Linked DNA regions of Homo sapiens: regions 1, 2 and 4 are each linked to region 3. Evidence: fine-mapped expression QTL. A gene starts in region 3. Each other region holds a variant in brackets. All regions are shown on one strand. Distances are between the middles of the regions.

Region 1 (5,155 bases), 88 kb after region 3:
TCTGTGAACTAATACTCTACAAGTTAGCTTATAAGAGCCTAGCCCTCAAAAGATTTCTTCTTGGAAATCCTTTCCCTTATGTAATGTATGTGTTTAGTTTTGAATATTCTTTTACTTATATAAATCTAATAATTTTGCACGTATTCTTCTACCACTTGTTTTTGCTCAATATTATGTTCCATTGTATAACCCAATTTATTGATACTTTCTGCTATTGATGGTATCCTGAATAATTTTCTGTTATTTTGCTCTCTCAAATTGTGCTTGTTTAAACAGTGTTAACGGTGAATCCTTATAAACATGTTCAGTAATTTCTCTAGTGTATATAGATAGAAGTAGAATTCCTGGGTCTTAATGTATGTGAAACTTCAAATTTGTTAAATAATATCAAATTACTTTCCAAAGTGGTTTTATCTGATTATACCTGATTGCAACTTATGCCTAAGTTTTCTGATTGTCTCTCATATCCAGGACAATTTATATTGACAAACATTTAAATTTTACCTATCTGGTGGATGGGAAATGGTACCTCGTGATCTTAATTTTCATCTCCCTAGGTATGAATGAGGTTGTGACTATTTGTGTTTCTTCCATGAAAAGTCTGTTATTGTCCTCTCCCTTTTTTACTGTTGGGGGGACAGCTTTACATACATTGGAACTTAATCCTTATTGAAGTTACATGTATGTATCAGTCTTCCTCTTGGTTTGTGCTTTTTGTATGTTTTTAAAGAAATCCTCTTAACCAGTGTTCTTCATGCTCGTGTGTGTGTGTGTGTGTGTCTGTGTGTGTGTGCATGTGTGTGTCCATGAAGGTACATTCATAGCTTAGTTATGTGAGGTTCATGGCTTAGATTATCTTTACATTGATAATCGAAAGAGTAATTGTCCTTTTCAAAGTAGGAGGCTTGAAAAGCCATACATTTTTGCTTTTCTTTTTTCAATATATTTTAAGAATTCTTTATAAATTGTCCTTCGGGACAGTAAATATGCTTTTGAAAATACTTGATGACAGCAATTTCTTTTTCTGTGAGAGTGGATTTTATATTTGGAAATAATCACAAGTCATTTAGTGACAGATTTGATGAATAGAGGTAGGTGATTAAGCTGACTAATACAGTTTTTTTTTTGGCTAAAATATATAAGAATGTGTGTATATGTACCATTAGAAAGTAATGGTATTTGTTGTACAAGTTAAGAATTGACCAGGTGTTTTACTCTAAAACATCATTATTGAAAAAGTGACATATTTTGAAGGGTAATGTTCTTAATACTCATCTGGTTAATACGTCCTTGTGAAATGTTTAAAAATATAGCCTTATCTCATTGTGGTTCTACTAATGTACAGTTCTCCAATTTTTTCTAAGGTATTACTGGTGGAAATGAGTTTATTACACTAGGAAGAGGCATAGTGTGGCTTTTCTTATTTTGGAAGCTTCCTGAAAGCTAAAAAGTTTGAAAATTGCTGTACTTGTTTTGAGATGATGGTTGAAATGCCATCTTTTTTTTCAAAAAATCAATGTGACATTAATAAGGCAAATCGTAGGTCACATTAAAAAGGTACACATTTTTCCCATCTTATTCTTACTTCAAGCAGTTATTTATTTTATTTCTATGCTTTTTCATTTTGCTAAGATATCAATCTCTCCATTCTTCACTTTGAGAGAATGGCAGATTGGAAACTTTAAAAGTGTATTTTTTTGGTAAAAATTAGAAACAAAACAGCATAGCTGAAAAAGTAAAAAGTGAGAAAAAAATGTGGATTAGTACTTTTTTGGCAATGGTGTAATAACACATTGATTTCTTGCTAATGAGGTAAAATTTACTTCAACCATCATTACATAACTGTTGAAGAGTTTGCATGCTGAACACTTCACACAATCTACAATTGTTATGTGTTCATTTTAAAAAACACATAGATATATTTCTTCAGGGACTTTAACATGATTTTCAGTGATTTCTTTGTGGAGCTGGATAGACTAATGCTTTTAATATCCATCCCTCTAATGAGAAAGCCTTGAATGTTTAGTAATTGTTTTGGCACACTCTCCAAGGGCAGGACAGATAGGAGCCACTTCCCAGCACAGGGGAGCTTACTGGTGTGGCTACCATGGCAACAGCCTACCCCACCCCCACCACAGAGAACATCCGAATTGGTCTCTGAAGTTCTTATTTGAATTCTCCCATGTCTCCACATTTGAGAAACACAGGCTGTAATTGCACCTACTTCATCTGAATTTAACCACTGTAGCTTTGGAAGGCTGCAGTTTTAATCTGATCTTTATATTTAGGCCCTTCTATAAACTCCTTTCTGATAAAATGAAAATATTTTTGTGCTAAGGCTCCAAAAGTAGTACACAGAGATTTAGAATTATGGTGGATGACGTAAAATGGTATTAAAATCAATCTGAGAATTCACACTTTATGTGTATTTAAAATACCAAGGAATTATTATTGAGTATATAGTTACATTAATGATTTGTGTAGAATCTTTTATTTGTCTAATTCATCCAACTTTACTGAAGTGGATTTTTTTCCTTGTATCACAAAACACCCATAAGTTATTCATAAGAATATATAGGAGGAGATGCTTTTATTTTATTTTAAATGTTATTTTATTAGTTTTGAGACAGGATCTCACTCTTTCCCATGCTGGAATTCAGTGGCTGGATCATAGCTCACTGCAACCTTGAACTCCTGTGTTTAAGAATCCTCCTGCCTTTGCCTCTTGAGCAGCTGTGACTACAGGTTCATGACACCATACCCATCTATTTTTTTGGATTTTTTGTAGAAATGGGCTCTCACTATGTTACCCAGGCTGTTCTTAAATTTCTGGCCTGAGGTGATTCCCTTGCCTCAGGCTCTCAAACTTTTGGGATTACAGAAATGATCCACCAAGCAGACCTGCAAATGCTTTTAAACCC[G/A]AATAGTAATCCCAGCTACACAGGAGGCTGAGGCAGGAGAATCTCTTGAATTCGCGAGGCGGAGGCTGGGGTGAGCCGAGATCACACCGCTACACTCCAGTCTGGGCAACAGGAGTGAAACTCTGTCTCAAACAAAAACAAAAAGAAAAACAGAACACAAATAGAGTATTTACTTTCTATTTGCTGTTCACGGTCTGTGTAGTTGAACAAGAACAGTTAAGTTACTCTGTACACTGTTCAATTTCAATATAAAAGCTAATTAAATTACTTTAGTCATTTATTAATAGCAAAGCTTTATTAGAAAAAGCATCTGGTCAAGGTGGTCAAACTCCTATGAAGATGGTTTTCCATTTCACAAATATGGGAGGGCAGCCAAGATGGCCAAATAGGAACAGCTCCGGTCTACAGCTCCCAGCATGAGCGACGCAGAAGACGGGTGATTTCTGCATTTCCATCTGAGGTACCGGGTTCATCTCACTAGGGAGTGCCAGACAATGGGCGCAAGACAGTGGGTGCCGCGCACCCGCACCATGTGCGAGCCGAAGCAGGGCGAGGCATTGCCTCACTCGGGAGGCGCAAGGGGTCGGGGAGTTCCCTTTCCTAGTCAAAGAAAGGGGTGACAGACGGCACCTGGAAAATCGGGTCACTCCCACCCTAATACTGCGCTTTTCCGACGGGCTTAAAAAACGGCGCACCAGGAGATTATATCTCGCACCTGGCTGGGAGGGTCCTACGCCCACGGAGTCTCGCTGATTGCTAGCACAGCAGTCTGAGATCAAACTGCAAGGCCGCAGCGAGGCTGGGGGAGGGGCGCCTGCCATTGCCCAGGCTCGCTTAGGTAAACAAAGCAGCTGGGAAGCTGGAACTGGGTGGAGCCCACCACAGCTCAAGGAGGCCTGCCTGCCTCTGTAGGCTCCACTTCTGGGGGCAGGGCACAGACAAACAAAAAGACAGCAGTAACCTCTGCAGACTTAAATGTCCCTGCCTAACAGCTTTGAAGAGAGCAGTGGTTCTCCCAGCATGCAGCTGGAGATCTGAGAACGGGCAGACTGCCTCCTGAAGTGGGTCCCTGACCCCTGACCCCCGAGCAGCCTAACTGGGAGGCACCCCCCAGTAGGGGCAGACTGACACCTCACATGGCTGGGTACTTCTCTGAGACAGAACTTCCAGAGGAACGATCAGACAGCAGCATTCACGGTTCACGAAAATCCGCTGTTCTGCAGCCACCGCTGCTGTTACCCAGGCAAACAGGGTCTGGAGTGGACCGCTAGCAAACTCCAACAGACCTGCAGCTGAGGGTCCTGTCTGTTAGAAGGCAAACTAACAAACAGAAAGGACATCCACACCAAAAACCCATCTGTACATCACCATCATCAAAGACCAAAAGTAGATAAAACCACAAAGATGGGGAAAAAACAGAGCAGAAAAACTGGAAACTCCAAAAAGCAGAGCGCCTCTCCTCCTCCAAAGGAACGCAGCTCCTCACCAGCAACGGAACAAAGCTGGACGGAGAATGACTTTCACGAGTTGAGAGAAGAAGGCTTCAGACAATCAAACTACTCCGAGCTACAGGAGGAAATTCAAACCAAAGGCAAAGAAGTTAAAAACTTTGAAAAAAATTTAGACGAATGTATAACTAGAATAACCAATACAGAGAAGTGCTTAAAGGAGCTGATGGAGCTGAAAGCCAAGGCTCGAGAACTATGTGAAGAATGCAGAAGCCTCAGGAGCTGACGTGATCAACTGGAAGAAAGGGTATCAGTGATGGAAGATGAAATGAATGAAATGAAGTGAGAAGGGAAGTTTAGAGAAAAAAGAATAAAAAGAAACGAACAAAGCCTCCAAGAAATATGGGACTATGTGAAAAGACCAAATCTACGTCTGATTGGTGTACCTGAAATTGACGGGGAAAATGGAACCAAGTTGGAAAACACTCTGCATGATAGTATCCAGGAGAACTTCCCCAATCTAGCAAGGCAGGCCAACATTCAGATTCAGGAAATACAGAGAACGCCACAAAGATACTCCTCGAGAAGAGCAACTCCAAGACACATAATTGTCAGATTCACCAAACTTGAAATGAAGGAAAAAGTGTTAAGGGCAGCCAGAGAGAAAGGTCGGGTTACCCACAAAGGGAAGCCCATCAGACTAACAGCAGAACTCTCAGCAGAAACTCTACAAGCCAGAAGAGAGTGGGGGCCAATATTCAACATTCTTAAAGAAAAGAATTTTCA
Region 2 (5,155 bases), 80 kb after region 3:
ATTGCTAAGTTCTTTGCTTTCATCTTATGTGGCTTCTGACTTCTCTGATAGTGCTCTGATTGTCCTCCTCCTGATAAAATATTTCTTAATATTTCTTCCACTTTGATTTTGCATTCTTAGAAAGTCATTTGGAACTTCTTATCCCAGCAAATAAATATCCCAATGTTTTAAGTTCTGCTAAAACTTTCTCGTTAACCACTGAATTCCAATTACAAAATTTATGAATATGTTTCCTACTGACTACCTGTATTGAATCCCATACCTAAAACATGTTGCACTTCAAACATCTTGTTCAATAGAGTTGTATCTGCCTGGTTACCTCAGTCTAAGCTGCTTGAAGAAAGAAATATTCTCTAAAAAGCATGGGACATGTGTAAAGAACTGTTGCATTTCTACCAGTTGTTTCAAATAGCTAAGTAGGAATCCAATTCTTTTTTAATCCAAAATATTACTTGAGCAGTATTATCTCCCACCATTTACTGAAGGTAACATTATATTCACCAGTCTTCACACATAAAGCTGTTAGGTTGGTATTTTTTTAAATACTATTTATAGATGACTGGCATCTTAGTAGACACTGGGCATAAAATAAAGAACAAATTTAAAATGATCCCTGCTTATGTGGAGCATTAAGTCTAGCAGAAGAGGCACATAAAAAATAAGTAAACATTTTTTTCTATAATTGTGTATAGTACAATACATCCCTGATATTCTTTTATAAATATAAACAGTAGTAATAGTATTTGTTCTGGAATGTTGAAATTTTATTCATGTTTATTCTTAAACTAAATTACAAACTTTAAAGTATGTATCCATTGGTTTTCTAGCAATCTTTGTGATTAAGAAAAAGTCTAAAGCAAAATGGACTTGTATGATTTTGTTGGTTGGTTGGTTGGTAGGTCACTTATTCATTAAATGATAGAATACTTAAAAAAAATTCTTAGTGCCTTTTTTTTTTTTTTTTTGTTTTGCTGCCATGGACATACTTTGTTCTCCAGTCTTCCAGAAAATTATTGGATTCCTAACAAGAAAATACATTTGTGGTGTGCCAGAGCACTCTATGGCGCTGCTAAACCTCACAAACTATGAAAGAGCTTGTCAGATGTGCCAGTAAATCTTCCCTCTCTTGCCATAGGTCCAAGGATCTTATAAAGGAAGCTATCCTTGACAATGACTTTATGAAGAACTTGGAGCTGTCGCAGATCCAGGAGATTGTGGATTGTATGTACCCGGTGGAGTATGGCAAGGACAGTTGCATCATCAAAGAAGGAGACGTGGGGTCACTGGTGTATGTCATGGAAGGTACGGTTTGTAACTCCAATCCTCTGACATTCAAATATTCTTTTTTCATCTTATCAGCTGCACACAGATGGCAATGCATTACATGGAAAATTCCATTTTTCCTTCTTTTATTGAGAAATTAGTTTGAGAAGAGTTGAAACACTACTTAGATAAAGTGGTTAACTAATTATGGGAAGTGTTTGTATTTAGAGTATTAATATGAGAATCCAGTATTTTTTCAGACATGGAAAAGTTAAAAATGTGAAAAAAGAAATATAGTTTATTACACTGAATATTCTTCATGCAGTCAGGTCACTGAGCAAACATACAAAGCTTCAGCAGAAGCTCAAGATCACTGGAAGTATTTTTGGCCGATAATTTAAGCATCTTCAACTCTCCCCTTAACTTTTAATATGTGACTAGTTTTCCTGCTATGAAGCTTCTGTAAAAAGAAAATGTTTTTCATGTGTATGACAGAGGCAGACAATAAAGGTTGAATGGAATATTACCTGCCTAATTAATAGGAATGATAGCTTGTTTCATACATCCTGTAAAGACTAATATAGAAAGTGTTTTGAAAAAAACTGAGGCACGCACTGTGTAATATGTTTTATGCCTAGCTAATTTTTCATAATACTTCTTTCTGACCTGAAATCTATACTGACATGCTTTTCTTTTGTGGGAAGAAAGTAGCTTGAGATAATGACTGAATCAGCTTGGAAGAAAGTGAGTGCAGAAATACCTATAATGTAAGATGGTGACACATGAAAACCAGTTTCTTAGGTGGTGATTAATGTTTTATCCAAAACATTTGTGTGATAGTGTCCTATAATTATCAAACTTACAGGTCATTCAGAGAAGTGGTGTATTTGGGCAAGTCACTTAATTTCTCTGTTTCACCTAACCAATTTGTAAAAAAAGAAGATATTCTTTCTTTCTGCCAGTGGTTTTCAACTGATGATGATTCTGTCTCCCAGGGGACATTTGGTGATATCTGGAGACATTTTTGGTTGTCACAAAGGGGGTGATGTTGGGGG[G/C]ACTGCTGACTTCTAGTGGGTAAAGGCCAGGCATACTGCTCAAAAGGGTAGCTGCCCAGAACAAAGATTTATCTGGCCCAAAATGTCATTAGAGCCAACGTATGAAAAATCCTGCATTCTGCCTTCTTTACACGATTGGTATAAAATGAGATAATTTGTATAATGTTTAATGTAAAGTATAGAACACCACAACATAATAATAAGTATTATTTCTATTAAAATCTTGACAGTATATAAGAAATATTCTTTCTTCATTCAGCATGCACCTTTTATTTATTCTTTGTCATCTTTTTGGATATATGTTAGGCATTCAGTTTTTAAGTAGTAATTTCTATCATTTTTTTCCCTTATAGTTTTCACCTTCTATGTCAACAATATAAAATTCTTCCCAGGCCAAAAAATATAAATATTCATTTAGACTTTCTTCTGGTGACAAAACACAATAAACAAAAATACACATAATGTACACTTGGCAGAGAATTGCAAAGAAAAGAGATGAAATTATAGGACAAGGCTATATGTGGATAGTGAGCAGAAAGGATGGAAAAGTGGCAAAAATATATAGAGGTCAAGTATAGAATATAAAGATAGAGGCAATATCTTAAGAACTACTAACAATTAGAAACCACGTTTAAAGCACTTCTGAGATTATATCAATAGCTTCATATGATATTATTTTTCAGATATTATATTGGTCAGCACCTTTTAATAAAACAGCTATTGTATAAAGGAAAGTATACTTTTACTTCATCTGTTTTCCAGTGCTAATTATTGCTGTTTCATTCAAGAAACCACAATTTTGAACACCTGTGGATTCAATGTTCCTTCATCTTAAATATTTCTTACAAAAGTAGATTTCCAAACAACCATGGACATTATTTCTAAAATTTATTCATGTTGTCCCTTCTTACTAAGCCTAACTGAAAGTCTTCTAGCTATATTGGAAGAAGCTTGGGAATAATAGTTAATATTTGTTAATGTTTAGAAAATGCCCAACACATAGAACATGCTTTTTCTAAATATTGTTTACATATAAAATTTATTTAAACCTCAAACAATACTGTGAGGTAAAGGCTAATATTTATTATTCCATTTTGTAGATGAGGAGACTGAAGCTTAATGTGGTTAAGTAATTTGCCCAGGTCTCCCAACTAGTTTATAGTAGAGTCAGGGTTTATACCCAGGCTATTTGGATTCAGAGCTCAAACTGTTAACTATGGGGCTATGTATTAGTCAGGACTCTCCAGAAAAGCAGGACAAATAGGATGTGTGTGTCTATATACAGTGAGAAGGAGATTTATTTTAAGGAATTTGTTTATGTGATTGTGGAGGCTGGCAAGTCCAAAATCTACAGGGTAAGGCCCATTGATCAGAGATGCTGCAATTCGAGTCTGAAAGCCGTCTGCTGACAGAATTTCCTCTTTCTAGGGGAAAGATGGGACTTTTTTCTATTTGACTGACTGGATGAGGCTCGCCCACATTATTGGAGGGTAATCAGCTTTACTCAATGTCTATTCGTTTAGGTGTTACTAAAATATCTTCACCAAAACGTCTACAGTAGAATAATTTTTGAGCAGCTTTCTGGTATTGTGACCTATCCAAGTTGACATGTAAAATTAAACATCACAAGTCAATCGACCCCTTGTCACCTTGGCACCCATACATATCTTCTTAAACCATATTTAATTTTCAAATAAAGACAAGAACAAGGTCATACTTCCACCTAACATGATTCAACAACCCTGTGTACAGCTGCAAATTTACTAACCCTTTCCCCAAAAGAAGACACAAAGTTCTTGGGTGATGTTTACTCACCTCATTGATATCCCGTAGCTTAAATACTATGATGTGAAGTTAACAATACTTAAATACTATGATATAAAGTCAATACATCTTATGCTGCATGATAAGGAGATAAGAGAAGGAAGCAAACGAAGTTATTTGATGCAAGCACACACACACACACAAACACACACACCCGAATGTAACAAAATAAGAAAGAAATACTCATGATAGGTGATATTTCTTCCCCAGGTAAGTATACTAATATTTTCCCCATTGCTTCACGATAATTTTAATAAATTTTCTTTATCTTCCTTTTATTGCTAGATTGACTAAACAGCACGTTATCTTAATTATCCTTTTAAAAACAGGGTTCTAAATAATATATCAATATTCAGAGTCACAGCTTTTGCAATGATGTTGACTGCCTTCAGAGTCACAGCTTTTGCAATGTTGTTGATTGCCTTCAATTAAACTCAATAAAATGACTACAATTTTATAACCTGATGCCAATCTTTCCCTAAATGGTAATTCTAGCCAGCTCAGTGTAACTTTAGCAGATCTTGTGCTAATAGCCTTATGTCAAAATAATTTAAAATTTAAAAAACGATCATTTAAATTTTAAAAAGTTTTAATTGAGGAAATGTTTCATTGTATCATTAGTTCAATCTTCTCAAAATTTAGGTAGCAATGTTCTTGCTATAGATGGATTCTTTGTTATCTGTGAACATTCATATTTATAAAGAGTATACCATGGTAATAATGAATGAATAGGCAGTAAAGGATCTTCCACAAGCTTGCTTACTATCAAGATATTCAGCAAAAGACCCAGGGAGTTTATGTGGAAAATCAGTCCAATTCTTCCTGTCTCTCTTTAGTGAAATTAAGTGGTCTTCATAAAATGCTTAACATGTGCCTTACATATTTTTTTTTGTTTGCACCCCGGGCAGTGTTCCAAGTGTTATTGCATACCTAAATGCCAGAGGTTCTTATGGTTTTAACAAAGAGAATACTCATATGGTAAGACTTTGTTAATTACGATGACTGGGGAAAAG
Region 3 (5,155 bases):
GCCTATAATCCCAGCATTTTTGGAGGCCAAGGCGGGCAGATCACGAGATCAAGAGATCGAGAACATCCTGGCCAACATGGTGAACCCCGTCTCTACTAAAAATACAAAAACTAGCCGGCGTGGTGGCGGGTGCCTGTAGTCCCAGCTACTCCGGAGGCTGAGGCAGGAGAATCACTTGAATCCAGGAGGCGGAGGTTGCAGGGAGCTGAGATTGCGCCACTGCACTTCAGCCTGGGTGACCAGAGCAAAACTCCGTCTCAAAAACAAACACACAAACAAACAAAAAAAAAACAAAGAGAAAATCCTGGAATTCTGAACCCAGCTTAGCAGTTGTCTAATTATGTCCTCTATACATTGTATCTGGTATATTTTTAGACATAAACTCATGGCTTCATGAACCCCAATAATAGATCTATAGGAAAAAGTCATTTTGTATTCAACATTTTCCCATGGAAATAAAGAATTCCCACAGGTTAAATAAGAATTTGGCCTTTTGCCCAGAAGAAGGAAATTTTCATGGAAGCTTTTTTAGAATACAGTGAGTTATACAAAGTCACAGTACTTCTGCTTGGTTTACTTTTAATTAAAACAACAGTAATTCAGAGCTATTATTATTTTCAATATTTGTAAGTTGCTCATTTCTTCATTGCAAAAGAAAATGTTTTGAGAATGATCCATTTTATATATCACATTTAGAAATAAATGCACTTCTGAAAGTCTGTGTTGGAAAGCAGAAAAATGAAGTGTCTTGTGTAATCTGCATTAAGAGAATTACTAGATCATAATCTACATAAAAGAATATTTAGGACTATATATTTTGTCATTTAGTCCTCTAATTAAAAACAAGGACACTTTAAATGAACAAGCTTGTTAAGATACCTTGACCTCCCTCCCTCCTTTCCTCCCTTCCTCTGTCTCTAGCTTAAATACAAAAAGTTGTGTATTCAAAAGCAACAGTGTGCAAGTTATTTTGATACTATTCTTTGCTAAGTTTAGAATTGCATTGCAATTCAATTTTATTTTCTGTCCACTTTGTTTTAGTGTTAAGGAATAACCAAATAGAGCATTGAGGATTATAATATTGAGTGCCCAAGAATAGTAATCAAAAATCTGCCAATAAAGATGCTATAAAATTGGATGAGTTCGTAATGTCTTAAGCAAATATTAGGGATTTAGGTACGTATTAGGCAGATATTTGGGGATTCTAAACATGTGTTCCCATGATGGGAGTGTAACACTTGGATAGAAAGGAAGTTACCTAATTGTGATCATTTTGGGGAATATTGAGTGGGCAGGGATGAGGGTGGGAGTGGGTAGAGGTGGGGGTGACTGCAGTATAGTGTACAATTCACTGCAGCCTGCGTGGTCTCCCTCGCTCCTTCACGATTTTCCCTCTTCTTCAAAGTTTGTGTCAGGATGTCTTCCTGGCCATTCAAGTGGAAAGATACATTCCTAACAGCTTGGTTGTGAGGAAAGTAATATTTTTAAAGGTATGATTCAGTTTCAAGATGAAATTTTTGGAGCTCGGGAATGATTTTTAACCCCCACCCTCTCCCCGCCAAATTCAGCAAATGGAAGAAGCAAGGCCCATCCGAGAACTATTCCCAGGCACCAGCTCAAGGCGGAGGGCTCATGGGGAAGCTGAGTGACCTGCTAGGGCCCAAATCCGTTTTTGGCCTTTGCCCTAAAACAGTTCCCCGATGAGAGTTTGGAAGGGGCAGAAAGGAAAGTAACTATCTGGAGCAGGCGAAGAGTAGCAACGCCTCGGGTGCTAAAATCGGAAACCCCACCCCCTACCCCACAACCCTTTCCCAAAGGTAGTAGGCTGAAAGGGGGAATTCCTCGCGGGCGCCGACTCGCTCGCATCTCCTGAGAGGCAAGTTTCTTCGCAAGCGTTAGCCACCTGTGTGAGGCGCTCTGGGTGGGAAAGGTGGCGTGGGAGAAGCGACAGCTCGGCCACACCGCTCGGGAGCTTTCCTTAGTGAGGCCGGCCGTCAAAATACCTCCAGAACTCAGAGCTTTGATGATGCAGAGTCCCCTATGCCTCGTACGTCGCTAGGATCGTAGCTCAACATTCTCCAGGCTGGTCTGCTCTGGAGTCAGCTGAGGCCTCCCGAGTTTGCCCGGGGTCCTCCCTGTCCCCTCCCTCCCACCTCCCCACCCCCGAAGTAGCGCTCCCGCCTCGCTCCACCCGCACACCCCCGGCGCGCCTCGGAGGCTTATCAGGCTCCCCGCACGCCCCGCAAGCTTCCTTGGGCGCCCGGCGCGAGGGACTCTGAGAGCCCAGCCGCTGCCTCGGAGCCCCCATTCACGTCCCCTCCTCCCGCTCCCCCGCCACCGCGCCTCCGACTCTTCTCCCCCGCGCCGCGGCGCCCACCGCGTCTCAGGTTTAATCCCGGGTTGGACCTGCTGGTTTGCTCTCCCCGCTCTGAGCCTCACAGCCAGCCCAGAGAAGTGGAATCTGCACTGAAACTCTGGGTGGCTGGAGCCGGCGGACTGGGCATGCTCAGAAGCCAGGGCTGGCTTTGGTCTCAAGTAGGAAGCTTTGGCACTCGGGAGGCAGCGGCGACTTTGGGGAAAGTTGATCGGAGAGGGGAGGAAGCCTCAAGACGCGGAGCAGCGGCAGGAAGGAGCCCCCGGCAGCCCGGAGGAGCATGGGCACCTTGCGGGATTTACAGTACGCGCTCCAGGAGAAGATCGAGGAGCTGAGGCAGCGGGATGCTCTCATCGACGAGCTGGAGCTGGAGTTGGATCAGAAGGACGAACTGATCCAGAAGCTGCAGAACGAGCTGGACAAGTACCGCTCGGTGATCCGACCAGCCACCCAGCAGGCGCAGAAGCAGAGCGCGAGCACCTTGCAGGGCGAGCCGCGCACCAAGCGGCAGGCGATCTCCGCCGAGCCCACCGCCTTCGACATCCAGGATCTCAGCCATGTGACCCTGCCCTTCTACCCCAAGAGCCCACAGTAAGCAGGGGTGACGCGCCGGGTCCATGTGGCGCCCTGGCGATGGGGAGCTGCGGGTCTCTGTATTGTCTGTCGGCCCCCGCCCCTCCCGCTTGCCATGTCTGTCCTCATCCTCAGAAATGTTTCATTTTAACGGGCACTTCTTGCGGGGCTGTGCACGTTTCTCAGAGCCAGACTCACTGCACATACGTTGCCTTCGTGTCTTTGTCAGATGTCAAGGTATTATTTTTAAATATACATATACATTCGTATAAGCCACCTAGTGTACGTAGAGTTTGAACACGTCCCAGGTGTGTGTCCGACCGTGTGTGTGAGTGTGAGAGAAGAAATAAAAAGCCCCCGTCTCCCAAAAGCCCTGGCAAACCAGCCCAGCTGGAAAATCCTAAATGCAGGCTCATCAGACTTGAAATGAAATGCGTCTGATCACCCATACTTTCTATGCTTTTGTGGCTCTCCCGGATTTCTCTACCTGCTGGCGCTTCACGCTGGTACCCTTCAAACCTGACGTTCTTGTCATCATCAAAGTGTGAAACATAAGCAAATAGGCATAGAAAAAGGAAGAATTTTTGATTTCCTGAATTGGATGACATTTACAATCCATAAATGGAAGACTAGTCTGTTGATTTTGAAGAAATATTTTTTCATAACATATGAGGGAGAAGATTGCTTATTTTACTTAAGAAACGTGCATAATGTTACTAATGGAGCATCTCCATCTCCCAAGAGGTGGTTGCTTGTTTCCAGGGTCAGATACAGATAAGCACACTTATCTTATTTAAAACGTGGACCCATTGTTTGCCTTACTCTTGGCTTCTAATGCAACCACTCTGGCATTGTTCTAGCCTTTTAGGGAACTGTGCAATTCTGATGTTAGTGGGCTTCATAACTTGGATGGGAAAAATTTAATGAAACTTGTTATACAACACTCAACTCAGAGTTCATATGGAGAGTAAAGCGACAGGAACATGAGGTTAACAGAATGTGGGAGAGCACCCAAAAGAACGGCATTTTAAATTAATAGATAATAACGTAATTGATAAAACCAAGGATATTGCTGCTTACTCTACTACTAACGAAATCACATTGGCTGGATGGCACGTGTTACGTAATAATGCAAGGTCCATCGAAACCCTTCACTTCATAAATACAACAAGTTAATATAAGGAGAAAGTAAATATTTGATTATCTCTATTTGTATTTATTGGATGTTTTTTGGGGAGAATCACAGCATGTACCAATTACTACTTTTGAAAACTTAGAGTTATACCTATACATGTTGATTCCCATGGAACATTTGCTGTTCATGCAGGCTTAGTTTAGGGAGGAGTTTGTATTCTGCGAGGGAGTTGGAAAGAGACAATAAGGATAAACATTTCTGAGATTCTGACCTTACCAAATTGCCCTAATAGTTCAGCAGACTTAGATCTGCCTTAGAAACCTGAGTGATCTGAATAAACTTCAACTTTCTCTGGTAAATTAATTTGCAATCCTGACATGCCTGACTGTTTTAGCTAACGAGGTACATGACCATCTCTCCTGGGCCAAGTTTTGCATAATGAAAAAATAACTCAAAGACAGCTCTCTGCATCTTTAAACATTTCATAGGATCTCATTTTTGTATCCGCAGGACTTTTGAGTGACACAGAGCAAACTCTGCTTTTACAAAAAGACCACTTTAATAGGTTTCATAGTGAAGCATGTTGAAGCCAGCTGATAACTCCAGTTACACATTCCATCAGAGATTTACAAGATTCTAGGCAGTAGGGAATGAGCTATACAATGTGATAAGTTTAAAAGCCTCTTTGTACATGACTTGTAGAATATCTAGATTGAAAAACAAACAAACGAAAAAGGTCCAGAGTGGAAAATAAAGCTGGTGTGGCAAATAATTTACAGCATCCCATTATAATAACATTTTATCTATCATTATAATAACATTTTATCTATCAAACAACACTGTGTGTCCTGATACTGATTTCTTACTAATAACTTGTATTTTAAAGGACTCAGCTCTTAAGGTATTGCCATGATGCTTTGGGTGACTCTGAAGTATTTTATTGAGGAAAATGATAGAATGCCTTCCAAGCTTAAATAATTTTGGAAAAACATCTGTTCTTTTTTCACACTTACATAAAGAAAACTAGAAAAAAATTGGCTTGAGTAGTAGAAAGTGTACCTTTCTTAGGGAAA
Region 4 (5,155 bases), 800 kb before region 3:
CCACATATCTACAACTATCTCATCTTTGACAAATCTGACAAAAACAAGAAATGGGGAAAGGATTCCCTATTTAATAAATGGTGCTGGGAAAATGGGCTAGCCATATGGAGAAAGCTGAAACTGTATCCCTTCCTTACACCTTATACAAAAATTAATTCAAGATGGATTAAAGACTTAAATGTTAGACCTAAAACCGTAAAAACCCTAGAAGAAAACCTAGGCAATACCAGTCAGGACATAGGCATGGGCAAGGACTTCATGTCTAAAACACCAAAAGCAATGGCAACAGAAGCCAAAATTGACAAATGGGATCTAATTAAACTAAAGAGCTTGTGGACAGCAAGAGAAACTACCATCAGAGTGAACAGGCAACCTACAGAGTGGGAGAAAATTTTTGCAATCTACTCATCTGACAAAGGGCTAATATCCAGAATCTACAAAGAACACAAACAAATTTACAAGAAAAAAAAAAACCCATCAACAAGTGGGCGAAGGATATGAACAGACACTTCTCAAAAGAAGACATTTATGCAGCCAAAAGACACATGAAAAAATGCTCATCATCACTGACCATCAGAGAAATGCAAATCAAAACCACAATGAGATACCATCTCACACCAGTTAGAATGGAGATCATTAAAAAGTCAGGAAACAACAGGTGCTGGAGAGGATGTGGAGAAATAGGAACACTTTTACACTGTTGGTGGGACTGTAAACTAGTTCAACCATTGTGGAAGTCAGTGTGGCAATTCCTCAGGGATCTAGAACTAGAAATACCATTTGACCCAGCAATCCCATTACTGGGTATGTACCCACAGGATTATAAATCATGCTGCTATAAAGAGACACGCACACATATGTTTATTGTGGCACTATTCACAATAGCAGAGACTTGGAACCAACCCAAATGTCCAAAAATGATAGACTGGATTAAGAAAATGTGGCACATATACACCATGGACTACTATGCAGCCATAAAAAATGATGAGTTCATGTCCTTTGTAGGGACATGGATGAAGCTGGAAACCATCATTCTCAGCAAACTATCGCAAGGACAAAAAACCAAACACCACATGTTCTTACTCATAGGTGGGAATTGAACAATGAGAACACATGGACACAGGAAGGGGAATATCACACACCAGGGCCTGTTGTGGGTTGGTGGGGAGGGATAGCATTAGGAGATATACCTAATGTTAAATGACAAGTTATTGGGTGCAGCACACCAACGTGGCACATGTATACATATGTAACAAACCTGCACGTTGGGCGCATGTATCCTTAAACTTAAAGTATAATAAAAAAAAATTAAACATAAAAAAAAGAGAACAGCACAGATGTGATGATCAATAACAATGGGTGTGGATGAGACAATAGGAACCCCTGCCAGACTGTCACAGTCAGAAAATATGTGCCCCATCTAAAGGGAACTGTCACTACTCATTGGTGCCATGAGAAAATGCAGGCCCAATGTTGACGGATCCTCCCATTTCTTTTAATGACAAGTCAGTAATGCAGGTGTTTATCTCAAATTTCTTGATTTTCAAATGTCGGCCAACAATTCCTAAAAAAGAAACCCAAACATGTTTATCGCTCTTCAGATCAACACTATGCAGGACAAAATGAAAATAGGTTGTCCACAAGTTGCAACCTCTGATTTAATCCATTCTTTCATTCACAAATACTTTCCGAGCATCTATGGAGTACCAGACACTGTGCTAGAACAAAAGGATACAATTCATAAGATGAAGTTCCTGCCCTAAAAATATTACAATCAAATGTCAAAATAGAGATGATGTCCAAGTAATTACAGTATTGAACTGTGAGTACCTCTGGGGTATGTAAGAGGAAACCCTAACCCAGACTTGAAGAGGATCAGAAATAGCTTTGACAGGTGGAGATCAGAAAGGTAGCTGTTAACTTAGTGCAACTCTGGCTGCATAACAAACCACCCCAAAACGTAATAGTTTAAAATAACAACAATGTGTTATCTCATAATCTTGTGCATTAACAATTTGGGCTGGGCCCGGCTAGATAGCTCTGACTTGAGACTTTCTAATCCATCAACCAACAGAGAGCTGCTGGGTTGGTTGGGTGTTGTGTGGGGACTGTGGTTTGGGATAGCCTCAGCTTGGACCACTTGTCTCTCCTCCACATCATCTCTCATTCTCCAGCAGGCTAGCCCAGGTTTGTTCACATGGCAGCTGAACAAGCTTCCAAGAGAATGAGTGAAAACATGCAAGCCTTTTGATGCTGAGGCTCAGAACTGGCACAATGAACTTCCTCTGCATTCCCTGTTACCAAAATAAGCAAGTCCCAGAACCAGCCCAGATTCAAGGGGAGGGGAAATTGTCTCCACCTAGTGATGGGAAGTCACACTGAAAGGTGTGGTCACAGGGGTGGGTGAAGGACTGTGGCTATTTTGGTAATGTACTTCACCTGATAAGAAGGCATGATGTGCGCAAGACCTGAAGATAATTGAGACAGAACATGGAGTTTGGGACATTCCAAGTTGTTTAGGATGGCAGGAGCAGAGAAGGCAAAGGGGTTTGAGGGAAGGCATGACAAGCGTGGTCAGAAGTCAGATCATACAGGACCTACCATGTATGCAGCCCAGTGAAATAGAGA[A/G]TCTTGGGTTTTTTGTTTGTTTGTTTGTTTTGTTTTTATGGCTTTCTCGTAAAAAAAAAAAGATTATTTTGCCAATACAAGACAATAATTGCAAAATAAATACAATGTAAGCTTAAACATAGCATCCTAAATAAAATGTTCTGGGGACTCATAAAGAAGATATATCTTATCTAGTTTGAAAAATTACAGAAGTTGTCATTAAAATGTAGAATTCAAACTGAACTTTGAAGGACAAAAAGGATTTTGCCAGGCAGGGTTATAGAGGTGAGGCAAAAGATGAGCATCCACCAAAGTGCAAGAATGGGAAAACCCAGAACATATGGAATCGCAAGCATCGTGGCTTGGCTAAGACGAGGGCAGCAGTTCTCAATCTTATTTTACATTAACCTCCTGAAAGATGATATTCATATGTAACTCTCCCACATTCATACCCTGATTATGCCAGAGTTAAGACAGGCTATGGAGTTATGCACAATTGCCAGCTGTCGGACTATAATCCCACCCTCTCTCGCCCCATGGTCCATTGTGAGGCTGAGTCTGAGATCTGCTAATGCAGGCTTTTGTAGGGGAGCCATGACGATTGCACCTGAAATAAGTTACGGACAGAGCCTGGAGGTGCTTAAATGCCAGGCTAAGGGATTTAATGTTAGTGAAGGCAGTTAAGAGTCCCTGAACATTTTTAAGCAGGACAGTACAAATAGAGCTGCGTTTTGCCAATATTCATCTGGCAGAAGTGGGTAAGTAGAGCAGGGAGAGTCTAAGAGAGGATGCTTCTTCCCTATCCCTGAACCACCACAGGCATGATGAATTGATCGAGGGACTTATTTCTGAGAAGCCCAAGCAGATCCTCCAAATTCTTCTCAGCATAGTGTTCTAATGGCGGGGGAAGGGGTGGAGCTAAAAAGTCAATTGAAACCTAATGGACACCCTTGGACTGAAGACAGTCAGCTCTTTAAGAGGTGAGACATCATTTAGGTGGGAAGCAGAGCCAGGGCGGCGTTTGGAAGTGGAAGTGGAAGTGGAAATGAAAAGGAAGAATACTTTGAGAAGTGTTAGCAAAGTGTGTCTGTATGACTTGGCACTTGTTTCATGTTGGGGGGGTGAAGGGGAGGGGCAACTAAATATCATTCCAATTTTTTGAGCTTATGAGAGAATATGGAGCCATTACCTACAATAAGAAATGAGAAAACAAACTGATTAGGAAGGGAAGAAGAATATAGATGGAGTTTGAGTCTTTAGTATAAACTTCAGGCCTAAGATTATTAGAATGAAGGCTGAGGCTAAAGTTTGTAAGAATAAACACATAAACATGAATCTCATGAACACGGGATTTCCCCCAAGATACTCAGCAGCATTGAATGAATGCACAGGGGAGAGAAGTCAATTTCTTATTTCCCCTAAAAATACTACATTATCACTCAAGAGTCCTGGCAGAACCAAAAACAACTGGAAAGGAGAAAAAGTAAATGCAAAAGAATTTTGGGTTTTTTTTTCTGCATAAGAGAGGAGTAGGAGAAATGGCTCCTGCATTGAACACTTGACCATGGCTGCACAAGTGGAAACCACAGCATCCTACCCCGTCTTTCAGCCTTTGCTCTGTGTCTGGAGTTTTGACATAATAGGACATGTGAAAGACTTGATCAAATTATGAAATGTATTGTTCTGCTACCTCCTGATAGAGATAGTTTGTCATGCAACAAAAGTGAGTGCCTATGTTCAGAGGAGGGGAGCTGAATTTCAAGTCATTCCCCTTTCAAGGAGGCAATAAATAATTGTGGGTTTTGAGTATGGATTCTGGATTAAGATTTATTGAGTTCCAATCCCAGCACTACCCTAATATGAGGTTCACTTAATTTCTCTTTGATCCATTCTTTCATCTGTAAAATGGGCCTAATAATAGTATCCATCTCTTAAGGTCATTGTGAGAAGTAAACAAGAAGTACATATTAAGTTCACCCAATTATTAAATACAATTGTTTCATAATTACCTTTTTAGTATAGATGCTCTTATCAAGTGCTAATGAATAATTCTTATACATTAATATAATCCATGGAGAGTTCTCACATTTTCTAAAATGAAAATCCCTTTGGTTTAGGTTTAGCATGACTGGATAAGAATCTTTAAGGACCTGTACATGAATGAATGCCTCCTATAAAGAAAGCTCTTAGAGGCTTCCCCAATCTCTGAGACGACATAAAGTGATCTTAGCCATAGAGTTCATCTGCTATGGGGTGCCAGTCATACCCTGTCTCCATGGATATGAGATTAGGAAGATGGATTTTGAAAAATGACCTTCCACATTGGGGTTTGGAGAACTTCTTGTTTCTACTTCCATTAACTCAGAAAAGGTAAAGGAGCTAAAAAGTATTCAAGTACTCTTCATTTCAGCTACAAAGATTTCCTTATAAATTTTTCCTCCTTAGGGGAGACCCCATCTCTAAAATAATAATAATAATAATAATAAATAAAAATAATTTAGCCAAGCATGGTGGTGCACGCCTGTGGTCCCAGCTACTAGGAAGGTTG

Which allele goes with the higher level. Positions count from the first base shown, and alleles are read on the strand shown. Sizes are in standard deviations (SD) of each study's normalised expression. Not every link is listed here.
With allele G in place of A in region 1, the expression in caudate of the gene that starts at base 2,551 in region 3 is higher (small effect, 0.40 SD a copy in GTEx).
For the expression in cerebral cortex of the gene that starts at base 2,551 in region 3, allele G in region 2 goes with a higher level than allele C (small effect, 0.39 SD a copy in GTEx).

What was found. PIP is the estimated chance that this variant, and not a neighbour inherited with it, causes the effect. A credible set is the group of variants that fine-mapping cannot tell apart.
Region 1: its variant is the best candidate, but not a certain one, in a credible set for the expression of PRKG1 in caudate (GTEx, PIP 0.64).
Region 2: its variant is the best candidate, but not a certain one, in a credible set for the expression of PRKG1 in cerebral cortex (GTEx, PIP 0.84).
Region 4: its variant is the best candidate, but not a certain one, in a credible set for the expression of PRKG1 in cerebellar hemisphere (GTEx, PIP 0.55).

What each region holds. Positions count from the first base shown.
Region 1 is chr10:51,160,116-51,165,270 of GRCh38, forward strand. All of the region lies in intron 2 of PRKG1 (protein kinase cGMP-dependent 1), which reads left to right. Among named protein-coding and RNA genes, the nearest start is that of PRKG1, 88 kb to the left of the region's middle. The variant G/A (reference allele first, on the strand shown) is at 2,922.
Region 2 is chr10:51,152,029-51,157,183 of GRCh38, forward strand. It overlaps PRKG1 (protein kinase cGMP-dependent 1), which reads left to right. Exons shown (of 18, transcript NM_006258.4): 2 at 1,136-1,302. Among named protein-coding and RNA genes, the nearest start is that of PRKG1, 80 kb to the left of the region's middle. The variant G/C (reference allele first, on the strand shown) is at 2,319.
Region 3 is chr10:51,071,937-51,077,091 of GRCh38, forward strand. PRKG1 (protein kinase cGMP-dependent 1) reads left to right here and starts at 2,551. Exons shown (of 18, transcript NM_006258.4): 1 at 2,551-2,965. The coding sequence starts at 2,655.
Region 4 is chr10:50,269,696-50,274,850 of GRCh38, forward strand. No RefSeq gene overlaps it. Among named protein-coding and RNA genes, the nearest start is that of ASAH2, 21 kb to the left of the region's middle. The variant A/G (reference allele first, on the strand shown) is at 2,629.